3 linked regions of the Homo sapiens genome follow. The protein of the gene in region 2 interacts with the protein of the main gene of each other region in a pairwise test. Each region holds a gene or a part of one and is shown on either strand. Other genes may lie near its edges.

Region 1 (8,013 bases), on a different chromosome or scaffold from region 2:
AGGCAGGTGGATCACTTGAGGTCATGAATTCGAGACCAGCCTGGCCAACACGGTGAAACCCCATCTCTACTAAAAATACAAAATTAGCTGGGCATGGTGGCGCACGCCTGTAATCCCAGTTACTCCGGAGGCTGAGGCAAGATAATCACTTAAACCTGGGAGGCAGAGGTTGCAGTGAGCCAAGATCGTGTCACTGCACTCCAGCCTGGGCGACAGAGCAATACTGTCTCAAAAAAAAAAAAAAAAAGTAACTGCTGGAAGATGCTTTTGATGACTGGCAATGAGTACCCACAAAATTCCCACGTTAATGGCCACCTCTACCAAAAGAACCACAAGAAGGCAGGAATAGCTGTTCTTTGAATATTCATGAACCAAAAGAAACTTCTCCAAACCTGTGGTGTATTTTCCTTTCCATATCTGTTTTTCTTTTTTCTTTTTTTCTTTTTTTGAGACAGAATCTTGCTCTGTCACCCAAGCTGGAGTGCACTGGCACAATCATAGCTCACTGCAGCTTCAAACTCCTGAGCTCAAGTAATTCCCCCATCTCAACCTCCCGAATAGATAGGACTATAGGCGCACACCACCATGCATGACAGATTGGCTGCTTTAAAAAATGTTTTGTAGAGATGGGGTCTCACTATGTTGCCTAGGCTGGTGTCAAACTCCTAGCCTCAAGAGATCCTCCTGCCTCAGCCTCCCAAAGTGCCGAGATCTGTTTCTTTCTTTAATAATTCTTTCTGCAAACAAATATAAGTGCCACGTCTAAATACGCATCACTAGACCACTAGAAACTCTTGAAATTCCGCATTAGAGATTTAGAATGTGTATCAATACCTTGGTAATATCTGACTTCAAGACTTCCTCTAATTGATCCTTTAACTGAGCTGTCTCAAATTTAGGGACATAATTTTGCTCTTCACTCCTTGCAACCTGCTGTTTAAGTTTTGCATTCTCATTTTTTACTTCGTTGATTTGCTGCTGAAGTTTTATATTCTTCGTTCTTTCATTTTCAGACATAAATTGCAAATTTCTAACTTGAGTGAGCAATTTCTCAAGTCTAGATTTCAGTTTCTGTCTTTCTTCCAGGTTTTCCTTTTCAAGTTTCTGGAATTCCTCCTGTAAAGACAAGAACTCTTGTTCTTGGGCCTCTTTTTCCCGTTTCAACAAGTCCAAAGCAGAAGCTGTGGCCTTTTCCAGTTCTTTTTTGAGTTGTTGTAGTCTCTCTACCTCTTCTTCTTTCTTGCTTAAGGTTTTGTCCATCTCTAAATACTGACTTACAGATTTATTTTTTTGTTGCATTTCAGTCATGTACCTTTCCTGTAAACACACATAATTAGCCTTGATCTTCTTAAATTGAAGCTGTAACATTTCCTTGTCATTCCTGGATTCCTGAAGATGTTTTTGCGTGTTAGCTAAAACCTCTTCCAAATTCTGCAATGTCTTTTTAGTATCATTCTTCTCTAGGATTATTTTGTATTTGTCTTCAATTAATTCTTCAACATTCTCCTTTAGCTTATTGATGACATCAATGAACACTTGCTGTTTGGTAATCTTCATCTGTAGTTCTTTAACCCTCTTCTCTAAATACAGGTTACTACACTGGAGTTCTTGGATTCGCACTTCCTGCTTTCTGTTAGTATGTTTTAATTTCTGCAAGACTTCATTTAAAGCCATGTCCTCTTGAACAGGTTGTAAGCTTTCAGCACTTTGCTCCCAGTCAGGCATCTCACAGTTCTCCCGACATGCTTCACTCCTCCAGGAAATGCCTGCCGAAGACCAAGTTGAGACAATTTCTGGCCTCTCCACACCCTCTGCTGTGACTTCCTTTTCATAACTGACTGACATCTCAGGAATCTCCCCATAATTCTGTATTTCTTTTGAAGGAACTGCAGTCTGTAAATTATAGTAAACAAAGTAAGTGTGAACGAGTAGAAAGATAATGAGCTTTCAAGTCAAATAGGGCTGGCCTTGAATTCTATTAGTAGATCCCCTGTTTGGCTTTCTCCGCTATAAAGTAACAATAGTATCTACTTCCAATAATAATGCCTATTAACAAAAGTTAATACCTATGTATTAATTGCTAAATGTTTGTACAGCACCTAACAGCACAGCAGGGCACAGGCAGTAGGTATATGACAGATATACATCCCATTTACTTTGACAAAAGGAAAATTAAACTTTCATCCTCTTACCATTTTCTATTATGCAAACTTCTCTGAACACATATAAGATGCTTTGACTTCAAATAAATTCAGACAAATAAATGTATCAATTACCTTACAGACTGCAAGTTCTCTCTCTTTTTTTTTTTACATGTTATTACTGGGCCAAAAGTTTGGATTTTTAGGGGGGAAAGTTCTCTTCTCTTTTGAATATTTTTTATTCCACATTTAGACCATTATCTCATTATTCTGTGACTCTCAGGAACATTAGAATGGCAGAAGAACATGCCTCATGATTGACTTTATGCTGCCGATAGAGGTCTCGAGGAGGTTATAAAAAGACAGTAGGCCGGGCGAGGTAGCTCACGCCTGTAATCCCAGCACTTTGGGAGACTGAGGTGGGTGGATCACCTGAGGTCAGGAGTTTGAGACCGGCCTGGCCAACATGATAAAACCCCATCTCTGCCCAAAATACAAAAATTAGCCAGGCATGGTAGCACATGCTTATAATCCCAGCTACTTGGGAAGCTGAGTGAGGCAGCAGAATCACTTGAACGCAGGAGGTGGAAGTTGCAGTGAGCTGAGATCACACTACTGCACTCCAGCCTGGGCGATAGAGCGAGACTCTGTCTCAAAAAATAATAATAATAAAATAAACAAATAAAAATAAAAAAAGACAGTAATTTGTGGTAAGAAATGGTGAAATGAATATGACATTAAAAACCCAGGGCCGGGTGCAGTGGCTCATGCTTGTAATCCCAGTACTTCAGGAGGCTGAGGCGGGTGGATCATGAGGTCAGGAGATCAAGACCATCCTGGCCAACATGGTGAAACCCCATCTCTACTAAAAATACAAAAATTAGCTGCGCGTGGCGGTGTGCACCTGTAGTCCCAGCTACTCGGGAGGCTGAGGTAGGAGAATTGCTTGAACCCTGGAGGTGGAGGCTACAGTGAGCCGAGATCACGCCACTGCACTCCAGCCTGGGCGACAGAGCGAGACTCTGTCTCAAAAAAACAAAAAACAAACAAACAAAAAAAACAAAAACAAAACCCAGGCCAGGCACAGTGGCTCATACCTGTAATCCCAACACTTTGGGAGCCCAAGGTGAGAGGATTCCTTGAGACCAGGAGTTGGAGACCAGTTTGGGTAACACAGTGATACCCTATCTCTTCAAAAAAAATATTTTAAAAATCAGTCAGGTGTGGTGGCATGTGCCTGTAGTCCTAGCTCCTTGGGAAGCTGAGGCAGGAGGATTTCTTGTGGGCCATGATCACACTGCTCTCCAATCTGAGTAACAGAGCAAGACACCTTGTATCTAAAATAAATAAATAAGTAAAAACCCAGTAAAAGGTATCTGTAGTGGTGTGCTGTATAATTCTCTGGAATTTAGAGACAAGGACTTCTGTATTTTGTTTTTTGAGCTCATCCTTCTGCAGAACCTTGTATCTTAATGGTTTTTCATTGTTCTGGGATAAAGATAACTATCATTACTGAGACCTACAAGGCCCTAATATCTTGCTCTTGATATCTGCTGTGCTTTAAATGCATCCCCTAAAGTTAACGTGCCGGAAGCTTGATCCCCAATCCCCAGTGCAACAGTGTTGGAAGACGGGGCCTAGTAAGAGGTGAATAAAAATGACTAAATGTTGTTATCACAGGAGTGTGTTAGTTATCACAAGTGGATTTGTTACAAAAGTGAGTTTGGGGGCTGGGAGTGGTGGCTCACACCTGTAATCCCAGCACTTTGGGAAGCCGAGGCAGGTGGATCGCAACGTCAGGAGATTGAGACCATCCTGGCTAACACTGTGAAACCCTGTCTCTACTAAAAATACAAAAAATTAGCTGGGCGTGGTGGCACACACCTGTAATCCCAGCTACTGGGAAGGGTGAAGCAGGAGAATTGCTTGAACCCGGGAGGCGGAGGTTGCAGTGAGCCAAGATGGTGCCACTGCACTGCAGCCTGGGCGACAGAGCGAGACTCCATCTCAAAATAAATAAATAAATAAATAAATAAATAAATAAATAAATAAATAAAATAAAAGTTAGTTTGGCCTCCACTTGCTCCCTCGATCTCACCTTCTTTTGCCCCTCCACCTCCCACCATGAAATGACAGCACAGAGACCCTCGAGTGATGCTGGCACCATGGACCTAGCCTCCAGAACCGTGAGCCAGATAAATTGTTATTCATTATAAATTGCCCAGTCTGTGATATAGTTGCAGCAAGATGAAATGAACTAAAGCAGTATCTGACCCACACCACCTCTCTGTCTTCATCTGCTGTACCCCTCCTCCTTCCTCCAACTCTGATCTTCCTGGACTCAGGGCTTCCTTCAGGTCCTAGTAGGTACCATGCTTCCTGTGGCCACAGGGTTTGCAGACGTTCTTCCTTCTGTATGGAAGGCTCTCCTACCCATGGCTGCCTAATTAACTTCTACCCATCCTTTAGAGCTCAGCTCAATGATCATTTCTTCAGGGATGCCTTCCCCAGACTCCCTGATCAGGGTAGTGTCCTTATCATAGATGCCCAACCTACTTACATATGCAGCACTTATCATAGTTGCAAGTTTATCTGTAACTTGATATAGCATCATAGCATAAATAGTAACTTTATATAACATGCTCTACATATACTTTATATGTAACTTTATTCACCTTATTGATCTTATTATAGTTGCAAGTTCACATTTATTTGTGTGATTGATTAATGACTACCTCCTCTAGTAGGATGCTGTCTTCATGAGGACAAGAACTACATCTTTTTGTCTATTTTCTAACCATCACCTAATGTGTAGTACAGACCTGCCATGTAATAGATGCCTAAAAGTATCTATTGACTGAATGAAAAATGGCTAAATGCAATGAAAAGAGGAAAGAACAATCTTGCGAAACCCTATTTAAGCTGATTTTTAAAAGGTTGTTTTCCAGAAATCAACTTGGACAAATAAAGTCCTTTTAAATGCTGTCATCTACTTTCAAAAAAATGAAAATGCTCATACTTGTAAATAAGACATTATAGTCATAGTGTTTCCCATCAAACTCACATTGGAAAGGTATTATTGGCCAGGTGTGGTAGCTCACACCTGTAATCCCAGCACTTTGGGAGGCCAAGGCGGGTGGATCGGCAGTTCAAGACCAGCCTGGCCAACATGGTGAAAACCCGTCTCTACTAAAAATACAAAAAAAAATTAGCCAGGTGTGGTGGCACACGCTTATAATCCTAGCTACTCAGAAGGCTGCAGCAGGACAATCGCTTGAATCCAGGAAGCAGGGGTTGCGGTGAGCCAAGATCATGCCACTGCACTCCAGCCTGGGCAACAGAGTGAGACTCCGTATCAAAAACAAAACAAAACAACAAAAAAAGAGAAAAGGTATTACTTATACTATTCTTGAATTTTATCTATTTTCCCATACCAATTCCTAGTATTTTTAATTTTTTTGTTCAGAAAGTACACAGAATATATACTGTCGGTATCTTCAGTGCTCTTAGGATACTACATGTGTGCTCGGAATCAATAAACCAAATGATAAACTAATATTTTCACTTTAGTAGAAAAAGTAGTATTTTTTGCTTGTCAGTAGAATTCCAATATGACAGAGAAATCTTGTTTTTCTTGAAAAATGAATTAGTGCCTCTGCACTCCTTCCTCTTCTTGACCTTTCCATCAGTGTAAACTCTGCTACTTCCAGCCATTTTGATTCAACAAATATAAAAGCTTATTATATTCAGACTGCTCTGTCTACACAGTAGCCATTCTTTTGTTTCTTTACTTCTCTAATAAACTTGTTTGTGGTGAAAAAAAATTATGGTAAAAAAAGCTTATTATATTCAAGGAAACATATAGACGCTGTGGTGCATAAGAGGGTGAGTAAGACAGTCCTGATCCTTAGAGAAATTACCATTTGGTAGAGCTAATCCTCAAGTATGGACTTGATTTTACTAGAAAAATTTATTTCTGAATTGGCTAAGATCTCAGAATGCATTTTCCCCAGAGAAGCAAAGTCCCTCATGCTAACTAGGTGATTTAACACTACTTGGAAAAGTCTCAGATTATATATATATATATACAATTTTTAAAATGCATCCTTTAATACTCCACAGGCTTTACTGACCATCACAATCGTACCTCCTCTGCTTTATAATTAACTCTCAGATGAACTAGGTTAGAACTATTCTCTTTATCAAATGGTTTTACAATATTATTGTGTACACTTTCCTTACATAAGAAGCTTGGAGGTTGGCTAGGGTTGAGGGCAGATTCCTTGGCAATACTTTTAGCCAGTGACTTTTCTGTAAATTTCAGCATCTCTCCACTGCAGTGGATTAGAGGCGGGCTTCTAGGAGGAGGCTGTCTAAAATACTCGTTACCAAGTTGGTCTGTATTTGCAGAAACACTAGTTTCCATTGGATTTTCTTCCTTAAATGAGTCTTGCTTTATATTGTTGTCTTTTGCATAATTATACACTTGACTTTGAAATTCTGGCTTCTCTGTCATTTCATCATCAAATGCTTCTACCCAGTGAAATTTGCAAACGGTTTCAAATTGTCTCAAGGAAGATATGCTGATGGTGTCAACTGGCTGAATTAGTGCATTCGTTGAGTAATTTTCAATGTTGTTATCTCATAAGAAAGAGAAAGAAGGAAATAAAAACGAGTAGACCATGAACTTGGATGGTAACAGTTATATTTATATTTATCAAATAAACTGCTGTAGCCACTTAAAAATTATATATTATTTCAACCTTATTTACTGTGTGAATTTTAGCATGGTTTTGTGCTAGCAAACAAAACAAAACTTTTTACATGGGGGAAAGAAGTCCCCAAATGACTGCTAGGAAAAAGTGTGTTATATGTAATTCTGGTCAAATAAAATTACAATAAATTTCAAGAGATCTTCAAAATTCTTTTGTTGTACTGTAATTTTAAGATGTTTTAAATTATACAATGTTTCAAAAGGACAAGGATAGTATAATAGAAAACACATATAAACTTGCTTAATCTCACAAAAATCCCATGATGTCAGTACTGTTATTATCCCTATTTTACAGATAAGGAAACTGAAGTGTAAGAGATGTTAAAGTCACTTGTCCAAAGTCACAGAGCTGCTAAGCAGTGCTGCTGAGATTCTAGACTACTACTTCTAAATGCTATGCTATACTATTTTTCAATATGACAAATTATGCAGATGTAATGTTTTTTAAAATCAGGAGCAAATAAGAAAACAGAATGTTACAAATTATTGATCCCTTTTATCTAACTTTCCTCCTCCCCAGAGATAACCAGTGTACTGAAGCCCATATGTATTCATTCTTCCCATTCCCATTTTACTTTTACTACTGATTTATGTATCCTAAATAATAAAATCAACATAATCTTGCCAAAGAATAAAGTTCCCAGATTTCCTCATTTTGTGACACCCTTAATGTCTCAGTACTTTTTTTCACAGTACCTCTGGACCAAAAGGAATACTTAAGTTCCATTTAGTAAATAATTAAGTTCAAACTAGTATTTGTCCTAAGTTATTAGCTGTTTGAAAATACACATAAACTAAAAGAAAAATATAATATTTTATTCTTAAACAACCACACTTTACTACTTGGATGTACACTGTTAGGCACCGTACAGCACCTCAAATCGTGGAATCAGATTGGAGACCACCACTCTCACTTCCTATTCCACAATGATTTTCATACGGGACTTGCTTTTTATTATAGCAACCTCCAAAAACCTACCTTTACAAATAAGACATCATAGGAAGGACTATAGTATGGGTTTATAGTGAAAACTACAGCTAACAGATTGTGGGGGTCTGATAGATGTCCAGTGTCACTGTTTCCCTCAAACTCCAAAA
Region 2 (8,013 bases):
ACAGCAGCTGTATCAACAGAGATGTGTTTGTACATTATTGTGATTTAAAAAGTACTTTGAGGATTGGGCATTTTGCAACAAAATACAAGCTTTGTTCTCTGGAATAGTAGGGGATTTGGCAAAATTACTTCAAAAAGAAAAGGATTTTGCACTAAAAAGTGAATAATTCTAATTCTTCATCTAGTAAAATAATTTCATCCCAGTAAGTAGTGTTTTTAGTCCCTCATTATTTGACACATTTGACCATTTAAATATATGGTATTTATTCACCAAAGATGCCATTAAATTTTCTTTGTTTCATGGTTACTAACAGCCTGCCTTGTACATTTTGGCCAGAAGAGAAGAGATAAACCCCAGTTTTTATCAGCTATAGGCCTGAACTCTCAACAGTAGACTTGAAATCTTTTTCTCTACCTCTCCCTTCCAACACTTTGGTGACCATATAGCAAAAGAACTAAATGTTTCTTGTGTGGTTATTAGTTATCTTCTGTTCATATGAATTTGTAGTAGCTTTGTCAAGGAACCTTTCAAATTCGATGAGTACTTTTCTGTTGAGTATGATCCTAAGTGATTACATTTTCATTTAATTCCTTTCTCTTAGGAGAGCAACGCTTTATGAAATTTATACATTTAAACTAATATTCTTAGATGCCTATCAGTGGGGAAGTTTTCATTGTCTTAGTGAAAAAAATGAAGAGTGGGAATAATTTATTTTCTTCAGAACCACCAAAATGGGACAGAAATCCTGATTTCCTGATCCTAGTGAGATCATCTGCCTTTTAGGCTGCTTCAAAGAATGTTACAGATTGTCCAGGTTATGAAGCTCTTAAAAATTTGTACAGATTTTTAATGTATGCTGAAATCATAAACAATGACTGAAACCTCAGTTTTTGAAAATTCCTAAGGAATTGATTGATTTTTTTTTTTTTTTTTGAGACGGAGTCTTGCTCTGTCACCCAGGCTGGGGTGCAGTAGCATAATCTTGGCTCACTGCAACCTCCGCCTCCTGGGTTCAAGCAATTGTCTGCCTTAGCCTGCCAAGTAGCTGGGATTACAGGGACCTGCCACCACAGCCCGCTAATTTTTTGTGTTTTTAGTAGAGACGGGGTTTCACCATCTTGGCCAGGCTGGTCTTGAACTCCTGACCTTGTGATCCACCCACCTTGGCCTCCCAAAGTGCTGGGATTACAGGCGTGAGCCACTGCGCCCAGCTGGAATTGATAATTTAACTGGTTATTTTCTGGCTAGAAAACAATGTATACTTTTGTAAAAGTATTCTTTTAATTATTTTTACCTTATACAAATGAAATTAAATTCATACTTTTCTCCTTAAACATCGTAGACTGAACAAAACTGCTTGGTAATTTACTTGATGATGTGATATTATTCTTTTGCTTTAATATACCAATAGATCCTTTTTTCCCTCTAACATTTATTTAATACTTATTGTAGGCTAGGCACTGCTCTAGGCATGATACTGATGTAGTCATTTACTAAATAGTCTCAGGCTGCAGTGTTTTGAATTCTTGGCTGAATTGAGCATAATGTTAAGAACACGAATTCAGGAACCAGACTGTTAAAATTTGAATCCTGGCTCTACTGCTGATATGACATGTGACCATAATATGACATGTGACCCTATACCATAATACTGGTAAACACCTAAAAGAACAGTAACTTTTTAATACCAATGAAGTTATTTCTTCAGTTGTCCCCTAAATGTCTATAACCCTTCTTTGCCTCCATTTTTGCATCTGTACGTGGGGTCAGTGATGTAACCTACCTCATAGGGATTGTTATGAGGATTAAAAAGAACACATAAAATGTTTGAAATAGTGCCCCACACATAGTTGCTATGTAAAGTTATTACCACCACCAGGAATACTGTTATTACTATGACTTCACAGTGCTGTCAGCCAGCTTGCCCCATCTCCTCTTTAAATTTCTCTAATCTAGGAAAAGACAACCAAACTAAGGGTAAAATGAGAGTAAATTGACTGTATGAAGCCTGAGATTTCCCACAAGAAAACATGCTGTGTATACCTTGGCATTACATTTTGGTTGCTGAGAACTTTTGTTTCTTAGACAAGCCTTTAATAGGCCATGCTTATAAATGAATCTTGAATAAGAAAAAGTATGAGATAAAGTTCATTTTAATAAATAGGACTTATTTTTTAGGGAAAAAGATCTTGAAGAAGCTCTGGAAGCAGGAGGTTGTGATCTTGAAACGTTGAGAAATATAATTCAAGGAAGACCGCTGCCTGCTGATCTGAGGGCCAAAGTTTGGAAGGTAACTAGAAACTAAAATGAATAAAATGTAATCACTGAAGAATAATATTTTTAAAAGTTTGTTGCTTCAGATGTCTTAGTTGCAGAAAACTTTATTACCTTATGAGCATGCCGCATCTAGATTTATCAAACAGCAGCTTATTAAAATGTTTGTTTCTGTAGTGTTTGGTATATTTAACAATAATGGCTTAGATTTTGGAATGTAATATATGCTTTTGTAGCCATTAGAAATGGTGTTTATGGGGCCAGGCACAATGGCTCATGCCTATAATCCCAACACTTTGGGAGGCTGAGGCAGGCAGATCACCTGAGGTCAGGAGTTCAAGACCCGCCTGGCCAACATGGTGAGACCCCATCTCTACCAAGAGGCCGAGGCAAGAGAATCGCTTGAACCCAGGAGGCGAGGCTACAGTGAGCCGAGATAGCGCCACTGCACTCCAGCCTGAGTGACAAAGTGAGACTCCATCTCAAAAAAAAAACAAAAAGAAATGGTGTTTATGAAAATTTTCTTGAAACAAGATACAATCAGTGAGTAAAATAGGATGTATATTTGCAGATACAGAATGATCATAACAATGTTAAAAATAAAAAAGGAAGTATGCCTCTGGCTGTTGGGTTATAGGAGATTTTCCCTTTGTTTTCCTCTATTCAGCTATTCTACAGTTCATGTGTATTATTATTTTTTAAAATTTTGAATTAAGGCATTGTTATGATTACAAAAGAAATACATATATTTGTGGAAATATATACAGCATAACAACCACAAAGGATAAAATAAAAATCTGTTACCTACCACCTATAGGTAAAACAGATGAGGTCTTGGTGCTTACCTTTTTACCTTTTTGCCCTATGCACATATGTAACAGAAATGGAATTAAAACTGTACACAGCATTCTGAGCATTTTATTATAGAAGTTTAAGCACATGCAAAAGTGTAGAACTTGTATAATGAACTCCCATGTGCCCATAACCCAGCTTTAACTGGTATCAACATTTAGCCAGTGTTGTTTGATTAGTATCCTCATCCTTTCCTCCCCACCCAACTCACTGGATTGTTTTAAAGCAAATCCTTGCTAGCATACTAAAAGTCTGAAACGTTTAAAAGAATGGTAATTCCTGGCTGGGTACAGTGGCTCACACCTGTAATCCCAGCACTTTGGGAAGTTGAGGCAGGTGGATCACCTGAGGTTAGGAGTTTGAGACCAGCCTGGCCAACATGGTGAATCCCCATCTCTACTAAAAATACAAAAATTAGCTGGGCGTGGTGGTGGGTGCCTGTAGTATCAGCTACTTGGGAGGCTGAGGCAGGAGAATCACTTGAACCCGGGAGGCGGAGAGGTTGCATTGAGCCGAGATCGTGCCACTATGCTCCAGCCTGAGCAAGAGAGCGAAACTCAGTCTCAAAAAATAAAAAAGACTGGTAATTCCTTAATATCATAAAATAATTTCTTCAGTTGTCTCATACATGTGTTTTTATGGGTGATTTGTTTAAATTTGAATTCTAGTAGGTCTACCTGTTGCATTTGGATATGTCACTTAAGATTCTTTAAATCAATACAGTTTATTTTACATTTTAAAAAAAACCTTACAAAACAGTGAAAACATTTGCTCAATTTATTAAGTATTCTTTTGTATAATTTTAAAATGTACATGGCACAGATGTACTTTTTCTTTGCCAGTACATTCTGTTGTTTTTACATTAAAAAAATTGATTGTGTAAATTTACATATCTAAATATATAAATATTTTGGGTAATTTATTGTATTCACTAAATCAACATGAAGAAATATCTAATGTAGGAGGACTTAAAATAATTCTGCTGGTTGTGACATGACTAAATACTCAACATTTGGTGGAGTATGGATACCTTAATTGTAATCTTTGTTATTATTTTTAAATTCAGGCCTTTAATTATTACAGCATATTTTCCAAGAATGAGGAATAACATATGAAGCTAGTCACTTTTTAAATCTTTCTTCCAGATTGCTCTGAATGTTGCAGGAAAAGGTGATAGTTTGGCATCATGGGATGGTATTTTAGACTTGCCAGAACAGAACACTATTCACAAAGATTGCCTGCAGTTTATTGGTAAGCTGAATAATCACTTTCAAGCAGAGTTAAATTTTGGAAATAATTTTTGGGTTGAGGAATCACTCTTCAGAATAATCTTATAATTTCAGAATTTGTAAAAGGCTTGTAAATAGCTTTAGAACTTTTCTTTGGAAATTCTTATGAAATATTGTCTATTAATTTTAAGGGAGCCTAGTTTTGACTGGGTGCAGTGACTCACACCTGAATCCCAGCACTTTGGGAGGCCAAGGCAGACAGATCACTTGAGGTCAAGAGTTCAAGACCAGCCTGGCCAACATGGCAAAACCCTGTCTCTACTAAAAAATACAAAAATTAGCCAGGTGTGGTGGTGGGCGCCTGTAGTCCCAGCTACTTGGGAGGCTGAGGCAGGAGAACTGCTTGAACACAGGAGGCAAAGGTTGCAGTGACCTGAGATCACACCACTGCACTCCAGCCTGGGCACAGAGTGAGACTCTATCTCAAAGAAACAAAAAAGATAACCTAGTTTTTACTGTTTCTTTTGCATTATATGTTAGATTTTTCATGTACATTTATGGGTTTGTTGTAGTCTTAAATTTGATTTTTATATAATTAAAGATCTATATGATTGTATGCAGCCCTCAAAGGGGAGCTTTGTTCCAAAAGTTTATCTATAAATCATAGTTTGTGGACTGCTGTAGAGAAACTACTATAAATTGTGATTGAATAGGTTTCCAGTCACCCCACAACATCTATTTCATTTCACAATGTGGATGAATTTAGTTTATACTTCTTTTAAATTCATCTCTAGTGCATTGTATTTTTGTTTCTCTTTCCATCATATTTTAGTTAAATTATTAGCTTGATAGGCCTATGTGTGGTAAGCACAGCAGAAACATTATTGCTGGTGTGGACAAAAGAAAGAATTTGATAGTGGAGAATGAATTCCTTTCCCTCTTCTTGCCAAAATTATAGCAACAACTGCCCATCATGGAGTAGGTGATAATCTGTTTAGAAAACCCTTTTGCTTCCCAGGAATATGGGCTATGCCTATCTTTACCTATCCCTTTAATTCAGATTGGCCATTCTTATGTTTGACATATATATAGATCAGGTATTACTAAGTGCTAATGTTTAGTAAATACTGAATGTATAGAAGTCTTCTGTTTCTTTCCCTTCTCTCTCAACAGACTAGGTAAGAAAACATGCTTAAGTGAAACTGTTATTCTTAATTTTCTTTAAATTTTCTTTAAACTGTCTTAAAGTTAAAAGACTGTTAGAAGGCCAGGCACAGTGGCCCATGCCTATAATCCCAGCACTTTGGGAGGCCGAGGCAGGCAGATCACCTGAGGTCAGGAGTTCGAGACCAGCCTGGCCAACATGGTGAAACCCTGTCTCTACTAAAAGTACAAAAATTTAGTTGGGTGTGGTGGTGCTTGCCTGTAATCCTGGCTACTCGGGAGGCTAAGGCAGAAGAATCACTTGAAATCGGGAGGTGGAGGTTGCAGTGAGCCAAGACCGTGCCATTGCACTCCAGCCTGGGTGACAAGCTAAACTCCGTCTCAAAAAAAAAAAAGGCTGTTATAAAGCGTTTTGACTGTGTGTTTTCCTTGGGTTTTGGATCTGTGAACCAATGATTGTTAAAATAAGTATAAGGGAAAATATACTTTCATGTAGTTTCACTTTGTCTTTCTCTAAATGCACTAACATAGTATTATATATTTGTAAACAAGTGTTATGTCCAATAACAGCCCCTGACAGGCCCTCAGTAACTTTATTTTTAACATTTATTTTCTAGACCAGCTTTCAGTGCCAGAGGAGAAGGCAGCAGAATTACTTTTGGATATTGAATCTGTAATTACCTTTTATTGTAAATCACGTAACATTAAATATAGCACATCCCTTAGCTGGATACATCTACTGAAACCATTGGTGCATCTTCAACTGCCACGCAGCGATTTATACAACTGCTTTTATGCCATAATGAATAAGTACATTCCCAGGTAAAATATGATTCAGTTATTGTAGTTTTTAAAAGTGAATACAGGCCTGGTTTGCTTTGAGCTAAAGTTGCTAGATTTACTTTGGCGGTAAAGTAAAAGGTTCAAATAATTTTGAGGATTGTTTGATCCATAATTGTTATTTTATTTTTGTGGTTATAAACATTTTTTAAAAGATTCTTTAGTTAAAAATGTATACTTCTGAAACAGTGGTTATACTGGGGTTGGAGTTGGGGAGGAAGTGGGGAGATTTAGGTCAAAAGGATACAAAATAGCAAATAGGTGTGATGAACAAGTCGAAAGACCTAATATGCAATGTGGGGACTCTAGTTAATAATAGTCTATTATATTGAAGATTTTTGCTAAATAAGTAGATTATAGCTGCTTTTGCCACAGAGGGGAAATTGGGAATATGAGATGATAGGTGCATTATTTTGTTCCACAATAGTAACCATTTTACTATGTATGTGTTTTTTATAACGTGTTGTATAATGCACAGAAATTTATTTTTAAAAAATAATTTAAAAATTAAAAATTTCTAGAGTTTATATATATAATTCTTCCAGTTTATTTGGTGGTATCCCTATTTTAATTTATTTGCCTATAAAATATTACAGTGTTCAGGTGAAAAGTAAAATTTCTGGGGTGTTACCTTATTGAGCTTGGAAGGAAGTCCTAGAAATATAGGCATTGAACAAGTAAATTGAAGTGTGCTGAATGTTAGAAAGGTGAAATATAGAGTGCTATGGGGATGTATAATGGGGGCAACCTAACTTACCTTGGAGGTCAGGGATGGCTTTCCCATGGTAAGTGGCATTTGAGACCAGACAGATGTGCAGGTGGTTGTGATGGGGGTTGTAGTGGGGGTCGTGGTGGTGGGCAGCACTCATGAGGCCAGAAAGAATTGTTGTAGTTCCCAGTGCAATAGATCAGATAGTTAGAATTTTAGTACCAAAAGAAACTTTAGACATAGTCTAGACTAGTGGCTTGGCTGTACAACCTTGAATGCACATTAGAACTATTGGGGGAGCTCTTAAAAATCCTAATGACTATTTGCATACATGAGTAATTAAATGAAAATCTCTTGGTGATGGGACCTAGGCATCAGTTTGTTTAGAGCTTACTAATTAATTTCAGCGTGTAGCCAAGGTGGAGAACCGCTAATCTGGACCTTGATAGTTAACTGACTCTTATTTTTTACTACTTTCTAAGTGATACCACACTGTATGAGGTATAAGTGTTTTGTATGGTTCTCTACCCTGGTTGCTTGTTAGAATCAACTGAAGCACTTTTTCTTTTTTTAAATAACGACTTTATTGAGATATAATTTATATTCCATAAAATTCACCATTTTAATGTGTACAATTCACTGGTTTTAATTATAGTCACAGAGTTGTACAGCCATAACCACAACCAATTTTAGAACATTTTATCACCCCAACAAGAAATCCCCTTCCCGTTAGTGGTCAACTCTCCATTTTCCCCCAAAATGGGGGGAATGATTGGTATGATTCTGTATATAAGGAATCATACCTTATATGTTTTTGTGACTGCCTTTAATGTTTAGCATTATGTTTTCTAGGTTCATATTGTATCATATATCTTATTTCATTTCTTTTTTTGCCAAATTTTTTATTGTATGCGTATACCGCATTTTATTTACCTATTCATCAGT
Region 3 (8,013 bases), on a different chromosome or scaffold from region 2:
TGCTCGCCCCCTCCTTTCCTTCATGACACCCAGTTCCCCTGTTCAGGCCCTGTCGTGGAAAAGGCACCCAGGAGCTAGCATCCAGAAATCCACAAAGAGGCAGCCCTAGGCACCTGGCACCCCCTGGTTAGGTAGCCCCCAATTCCATAAAACAGACTTGCAACAAAGGAGAAGAAAGCCACAGCCTAGTGCTTCTATCCACTCTCGACACAGCAGCTGAGGGACCTAACATGTAAGGCCTGGTCATTTACCCCAACGCCCGAAACCCCAGCAACTGCCCACTGACCTGAGGATAGACTACAGGCGCCCCACACTGGCCTCATCTCCCACCATCCTCCCCGGACACACTGGGCTCTGGCCACACAGTCCCTTACTATTCCTGCAACGTAACAAGCCCAGTGTGCTGTCACCTCAACTGCTGGGACCCAGCTCTCCACACAGCAGCTCCTTCTCACCAGGCACCCAATCAGCACAGCCCACCCCAGTCACTCTCCTTCCCGAGTCCCTGCTGTGTTCCCCAAAGCACTCATGCCTATTGAAATTATCTTTTTCGTGTACTTGCTTATCATCGAGCCCCCTTGCTATACTGCAGAGAGGCAGAGATTTTGCTGCTTCATTATAATAGGCATGTCCTGCTTCCAGCCCAGGGCTGGCACTTAGCAGCCACTTAGTAGGGGTCAGCCATGTGGATGGAAACACTCCGCCACATTCACACCTGCTCTGCACTGTTCTTCACCATGCTGACCGCTATCTGAAATGATATTATTCCTTTGTTTTCTCACTGTTTCTTCCCCCTACCCAGCCTCACTTCTCACTGTGAGGCTTGCCTCGGAAGGCAAGGACTTTTCTGCTTTGTAATGCCCAGGGCTGAGAGTCATGATGGGTATTTGTGGGATGGACAGACAGATAGATGGATCTGGAAGCATGGATGAATGCCAGTGGACAGACTCTGGGTGGGCCCCTCCCATTCCCTCTCCCCACAGGGCAGTACCTGGGCTCCAGGCCCTGTGCCACGTCTACCCCAAGGTAGTGTGGCTTGGGCAGGTTGGCGAGGTAGTGCAGGCTATGGGCCTGGAAGATGCGGACTATCCCATCTGTGCAGCCACAGAAGATGAGCTCCTGGCTGACACAGAGGCAGGAAGACAGGGAGACCTGTAGGGGCAAAAGGGACCCCAGTGGATTTGGTGCTTCACGTGGCCTGGCCCGGGGATATGGGGACTGACAGAGCAGCCTTAGGCCTCCAGAGAAGACTTACAGTTCCTTGGGTCTAAGACACCCATTTTAGCATATTTTAAGATTTGTGAAATCAGGATATAGCATACTGCTGCTATTGAAAGACATGTGCCAGCAGGTAGGCAGAGGCATGAACGGAAACAGAATTGTCACTGCTGTCTACAGAGAAACGTAGCTGTGTATGGAAAATACCTGTTCAGCAGACTGCAACTTCAGGTAAGTCACTTGTAGTAACAGGGTTGAATTTTAGGCTTAAATTTTTTTTTTTTTTTGAGATAGAGTTTTTTGTTGCGCCCAGGCTGGAGTGCAATGGCACAATCTCGGCTCACTGCAACTTCCACCTCCTGGGTTCAAGTGATTCTCCTGCCTCGGCCTCCAGAGTAGCTGGGATTATAGGCGGCCGCCACCACACCCAGATAATTTTTTGTATTTTGAGATGGGGTTTCACCATGTTGGTCAGGCTGGTCTTGAACTCCTGACCTCAGGTGATCCACCTGCCTTGGCCTCCCAAAGCATTGGGATTACAGATGTGAGCCATCGCGCCCAGCCTTTAGGCTTAAATTTTATTCCCTTTTGCTTACAAACAACTTCATAAAGACTGTACTCCAAAGCGGTACAGAAAAAAGTTACAGTATCTAGAAAGGACTGTCTATCCTACTAGGAAGTGCTAGACCTCTAGATACAGTTTAAGGAGTTTTTCCAAATCTACAGGGACTTAATTTATGAGTCATTTAGTGCTTAGGAAATAAACATCTATCTATTGAAAGCTTTTCACTTGCTTGAAAAAGAGAAAATGATGTTTAACCAACTAGGACAGAGATAAAACTTGGAACTCTTCCACAAGCCATTAACCTCGAAGGTGATCTCCAGAGTGAGTCACAAAGGCAGGCCAGGAACAGGAGAGGAAACCACAACGCTCGGGCGGATAGCCAAATGGGCAACTGATTCCAGATGGGAAAACAGCTTTGACTCAAACCTTCAGATACTAAAGGAAAGAAGCTCTGCAATGTATCGATAGATCATGCTTTAGTTTAAAAGTTTATGGCCGGGCGCAGTGGGAGGCCAAGACGGATGGATCACTAAAGGTCAGGAGTTCGAGACCAGCCAGGCCAACATGGTAAAACCCTGTCTCTACTAAAAATACAAAAATTAGCTGTGCGTGGTGGCAGGCACCTGTAATCCCAGCTACTTGGGAGGCTGAGGCAGGAGAATTGCTTGAACCTGGGAGGTGGAACTTGTAGTGAGCTGAGATTGCGCCACTGCACTCCAGCCTTGGCAACAAGTGAGACGCCATCTCAAAAAAAAAAAAAAAGTAAAAATAAATAAAAATAAATAAAAGTTTATGTATTTTGTGTAGTCTTTTTTGACTGAAAAGTTATTAAATCAATGGTACCTCCAATTTTTAAAAAATGCAATCCTCCTCTCCCTCTCCTTCTCCCCACGGTCTCCCTCTCCCTCTCCCCACGGTCTCCCTCTCCCTCTCTTTCCACGGTCTCCCTCTGATGCCGAGCCAAAGCTGGACTGTACTGCTGCCCTCTCGGCTCACTGCAACCTCCCTGCCTGATTCTCCTGCCTCAGCCTGCCGAGTGCCTGCGATTGCAGGCGCGCGCCGCCACGCCTGACTGGTTTTCGTATTTTTTTGGTCTCCACCAAACACAGGGTTTCGCTGTGTTGGCCGGGCTGGTCTCCAGCTCCTAACCGCGAGTGGTCCGCCAGCCTCGGCCTCCCGAGGTGCCGGGATTGCAGACGGAGTCTCGTTTACTCAGTGCTCAATGTTTCCCAGGCTGGAGTGCAGTGGCGCGATCTTGGCTAGCTACAACCTCCACCTCCCAGCCGCCTGCCTTGGCCTCCCAAAGTGCCGAGATTGCAGCCTCTGCCCGGCCGCCACCCCGTCTGGGAAGTGAGGAGCGTCTCTGCCTGGCCGCCCATCGTCTGGGATGTGAGGAGCCCCTCTGCTCGGCTGCCCAATCTGGGAAGTGAGGAGCGCCTCTTCCCGGCTGCCATTCCGTCTAGAAAGTGAGGAGCGTCTCTGCCCGGCCGCCCATCGTCTGAGATGCGGGGAGCGCCTCTGCCCCGCCACCCCGTCTGGGATGTGAGGAGCGCCTCTACCCGGCCGCGACCCTGTCTGGGAGGTGAGGAGCGTCTCTGCCTGGCCGTCCCATCTGAGAAGTGAGGAGCCCCTCCGCCCGGCAGCCGCCCCGTCTGAGAAGTGAGGAGCCCCTCCGCCCGGCAGCTGCCCCGTCTGGGAAGTGAGGAGCGTCTCCGCCCAGCAGCCGCCCCGTCCCGGAGGGAGGTGGGGGTCAGCCCCCGCCCGGCCAGCCGCCCAGTCCGGGAGGGAGGTGGGGGGAGTCAGCCCCCGCCCGGCCAGCCGCTCCGTCCGGGAGGGAGGTGGGGGGTTAGCCCCCGCCCGGCCAGCCGCCCCGTCCAGGAGGGAGGTGGGGGTCAGCCCCTGCCCAGCCAGCCGGCCCGTCAGGGAGGGAGGTGGGGGTCCGCCTCCGCCCTGCCGCCGCCCCGTCCGGGAGATGGGGGGTGCCTCTGCCCGGCCGCCCCTTCTGGGAAGTGAGGAGCCCCTCTGCCCGGCCACCACCCCGTCTGGGAGGTGTACCCAACAGCTCATTGAGAACGGGCCATGATGACGATGGCGGTTTTGTGGAATAGAAAAGGGGGAAAGGTGGGGAAAAGATAGAGAAATCAGATTGTTGCTGTGTCTGTGTAGAAAGAAGTAGACATGGGAGACTTCATTTTGTTCTGTACTAAGAAAAATTCTTCTGCCTTGGGATGCTGTTGATCTATGACCTTACCCCCAACCCTGTGCTCTCTGAAACATGTGCTGTGTCCATTCAGGGTTAAATGCATTAAGGGCGGTGCAAGATGTGCTTTGTTAAACAGATGCTTGAAGGCAGCAGACTCGTTAAGAGTCATCACCACTCCCTAATCTCAAGTACCCAGGGACACAAACACTGCGGAAGCCCGCAGGGTCCTCTGCCTAGGAAAACCAGAGACCTTTGTTCACTTGTTTGTCTGCTGACCTTCCCTCCACTATTGTCCTAAGACCCTGCCAAACCCCCTCTGGGAGAAACACCCAAGAATGATCAATAAAAAAAAATAAATTAATTAAAAAAAAATGCAATCCTCTACCAGCCAGAGTGCTCAAAGGAGAAAAGAAATGTGAAGTAGATCAAATAGTCATGGGAAAACAACTGTCACCTTGAGCCCATTTCAGGGTACCAAGCACCGTGCTCACTGCCTTGCCTATGTTATCTCACGTGACTTCCTTATCAGCTCTGCGGGGAGGGCAGCAGTACTCCCATTTTACAGATGTGGAACCTTAAGCTCAGAGAGTGGGCGTCATTCACCACTAGTCACATAAGCAGAACCTGTGTGGTCAATGCTGATGAGCACCCCTGCAGACACATATCACGAGAAAGAGTCTGTCCAGCTGATGGCAGAGAGGGAGGTGGTACCTTCAGGTTGATCCACTTCTCCAGCACCCTCTTCTCATTGAACTGGCAGAGGAGGCCCGAGTAGGACACACAGAAGGTACTGCCCGCCATCCGGCCCCGACCGCAGGCCACACCACAGAAGATGTTGTTGTGCAGCTCGCCCAGGATGCCCGAGCGCCCTACAAGGGGCACTGTGCTCGTCACCTGGAGACACAGAGGGCGTAGTGAGATACTTGTCCACACAGCTGGGCCCTGCATGACCAGATGATAGGACACAACAAAACAGGAGAACTCTAAGAAGCTCTTCCAAATGGAGAAGGGAAGAAAACACTAGAACCCTGCCACTCTGGACAGAGGGGCTGGACAGCAGCAGTCCAAGAATGAGAGCTGGTCCCAGGGTCAGGGGGTTCCTGGCAGGGCCTGTGCATCAGCACCCTGAGAGTAGGCCCAGAAGCAGCAGCTGGGCCCCTGAGAGGCCAAATGGCCCGAGACCGCTGCCCTCAAATCTCAGGGAGAAACAGGAGACCATGCTGCCACCGATGGTGACTCCCTCAGGGCCTGGCTAAAGGGGCAGGGACAGAAACTCACCTTTGTCTCAGTGGAGACTTCCAAGAACCAGAACCTCACATGGCGGTTCCCAACAGTGACAAAATAGCTGCTGTCCTCTGAGAAGGAGAGGGCAATGACTCTACAAGATACCTTGTTGGAGGCCACTACGATGTCTTTCTGGAAGAATAAGTGCAGAGAAGCTCATGCCAGCACTCATTCCACTGGACTGTTTGTGCCTTTGCCCTCAGGCTGGAACTCCCTGCTCGTCCCCACTCCAAGTCTGTCTTCCTGGGACCCTCCAGGGAGCTGCTGTATGGGGAAACCTATGTGGGGCACCCTGCTCATTCCTCACCGACAGAGGAAGGGACAGAGGCTTGGAATGGTCCCCATGGGACAGTATGTTCCAGAGCTCTCTCCAAGGGTCTAAGCTCTGCAGCCCACACATGGTATTGGGGACAGTCACGGCTGGGATGTAAGGACAACACAACCTATGGCTGTCACAGATGGGGCTCCTGCTCTGGGCCCTGCCCTGAGCCCTTCACAGGATAACCCATGAAATTTCCTCAATCCCTCAAAAGCCCCACGAGGGAGGCGCTTCTCCCCAACCCTACCAGGCTCAGAGGGGGAGATGTCATGTGCTCAAGGTCACATAGTGGGTTATGGGCAGAGCCAGGACTTGGTACCCACTTCTGCCAGCTCCACAGCTGTTCCAAAGCCCAGCCTTCCAGTGCTTATCAACTCATTAAAGTCTCACAACTCAACAAGATAAGTACTACTATATCCATCTAACAGAGGAGGAAACAGACTCACAGAGATGTTAAGTCACTTGCCTAAGGTCACAGCTGGTCAATATAAAAATATGTATAATGCTTCTAGCTGGGAGCCTGCCTTGTGCCCTACAATAAGGGATCAGCATGTCACAGGTGCTCAATAGCTGTTATCTGTTGGGTGAGTGAGCACTTTACTGCGTCCTCTCATGTAGCTCTCCCTGTGCCCAAGACATAGGATGCTGTGGCAGCTGGCTGCCTGCCACAGGCCTGCTGGTCGGCTCTTACCTTCCAGTCCCAGACGTTGAGCACCATGTCATGTTGGTAGCCCATGGACACGATGTGCTTCATATTGGGTGAGAAGGCCACACACGCCACACCATACTTGTGGCCTAGCATCTCCGCCACCTGATTCTTCTCCTCCACATCCCAGATGCGCACAGCAGGCCTATGCCCATTCTAGGGAAGGTGGGGTCGTTACTGCTGCTGGGCTCTGTACTGGGCAGGGCTAGAGGGTTGTCAAGGCCGAAGATGGCATTGCCACAGGATGTGCCCAAAAGCCACCTCCCCCATCTGCTACAGGGCTGTTCTGGCCCAGGAAGGAGCTATTCCAGGGACTCCCAGGCCTGCCGGGAGCAGAAGGAATGGCTTCCAAGACCCCCCAGCCCCCGACTCCCACTCAGTCACGATCACGACTCACCTCCCCTGTCACTATGTACTTCCCATCAGGGGAGAAGGCCAGAGCACTGAGAGACTTCCTGGGGATAAAGAAAAGAGCTGATCACTGGTTCCGCTGAGGGTGGCCAGCCAGACCCCATCCTGGCGACTCTGATAGGACTCTGCCCTCTTCTGCCTCCCAAGCCTCGGAAGAGGCCAGCAGAGGTGAGCTCAAGCAGCTCCCACAGAGCCAGTGCCGCTGGTGTGCCCAGCAAAGCACACAGAGAAATGGGGGTAAATGCAAAGGCCCCTTCCGCCCTGAGACACCAAACCCAAATGGAGTAGACACTGTATGCGGACCCTGCTTTCTTCTCCCTCTGCCGCAGTGGGTATCCTAAGACCCTATCCACCCTGTAACACTGAGAAATAGAGATGCAGGAAATGGTACAGGCCTGGCCTAACTAAACGGGTGGTGCTGATGGGAGGATCCTGGCAGGCATCACATCAAGGTAGCCTGCAGCCTGTGCTCCACTGCTAAATACTCAAGGTGTTCTGGAAAATCCATAAAGAGCCAAAATGTTTCTGATACTCCTAGCTAGCCTGCACAAGCACTGAATGAACAGGCTAGCTCGTAGGTTTCTGGCAGCAAGATTCACTGTTCCCAGATTGTATGGTTTCCTTCTACTCCCTTCTCTCTTTTAATCTTATTTTTACCTTTGTTCCTTAACAATCTAATAATTGTCTCCCTACGTGAGATGGTAAATTGGTGTGTAGATAACTAAGTAAATGTCGCTAAGTGAGACTTTGGCAACTTCATGGAATATTCATCATCAAGTCAACCTGCTTCCCAGGCTTCCCGTGGCTCCTTACTGCAACAAACAGGGCAAGCTGCCTCCTGGATATCCACTCGCCTCTCTTTCCTTACTGACATAACCCCAGTTTTATGCTTGCAACTATGCAGGTACAGCTACATGACTTAGTCTGGCCAAGGAGAAGTAAACTGACATGCTGTGTGGGACTTCCTGAAATACTCGTCAAAGGGAACCCTTTGCCCTGCTTCCTACCAGTTCCCCTCCTGAAATACGCACACGACAGCCAGAACTCCATCTTGGGCCATGAAGTGACTTCAAGACCAGAAGCCTCACAATAAATGGGGTGGAACAGGAGAGAAGGAATGGGGGCCGGGTGCGGTGCCTCACGCCTGTAATCCCAGCACTTTGGGAGGCAGAGGGGTGGGTGGTTCACTTGAGGTCAGGAATTCGCGAACAGCCTGGCCAACACGACAAAACCCCACCTCTACTAAAAATACAAAAAATAGCCAGGTGTGGTGGCAGGAGCCTGTAATCCCGGCTACTCGGGAGGCT

The links.
Region 1: the proteins of TBC1D23 (region 2) and CAGE1 interact in binary tests that used the Homo sapiens proteins (3 or more experiments, as listed by UniProt).
Region 3: the proteins of TBC1D23 (region 2) and WDR62 interact in binary tests that used the Homo sapiens proteins (3 or more experiments, as listed by UniProt).

What each region holds. Positions count from the first base shown.
Region 1 is NC_000006.12:7,372,239-7,380,251, forward strand, and holds part of CAGE1 (cancer-associated gene 1 protein), read right to left. Parts: intron 6,783-8,013; coding exon 6,379-6,782; intron 1,894-6,378; coding exon 835-1,893; intron 1-834.
Region 2 is NC_000003.12:100,277,471-100,285,483, forward strand, and holds part of TBC1D23 (TBC1 domain family member 23), read left to right. Parts: intron 1-2,178; coding exon 2,179-2,290; intron 2,291-4,271; coding exon 4,272-4,377; intron 4,378-6,136; coding exon 6,137-6,341; intron 6,342-8,013. UniProt on the Homo sapiens protein: Putative Rab GTPase-activating protein which plays a role in vesicular trafficking. Involved in endosome-to-Golgi trafficking.
Region 3 is NC_000019.10:36,064,695-36,072,707, reverse strand, and holds part of WDR62 (WD repeat-containing protein 62), read right to left. Parts: intron 6,751-8,013; coding exon 6,693-6,750; intron 6,452-6,692; coding exon 6,281-6,451; intron 5,403-6,280; coding exon 5,265-5,402; intron 4,881-5,264; coding exon 4,698-4,880; intron 1,153-4,697; coding exon 992-1,152; intron 1-991. UniProt on the Homo sapiens protein: Required for cerebral cortical development. Plays a role in neuronal proliferation and migration.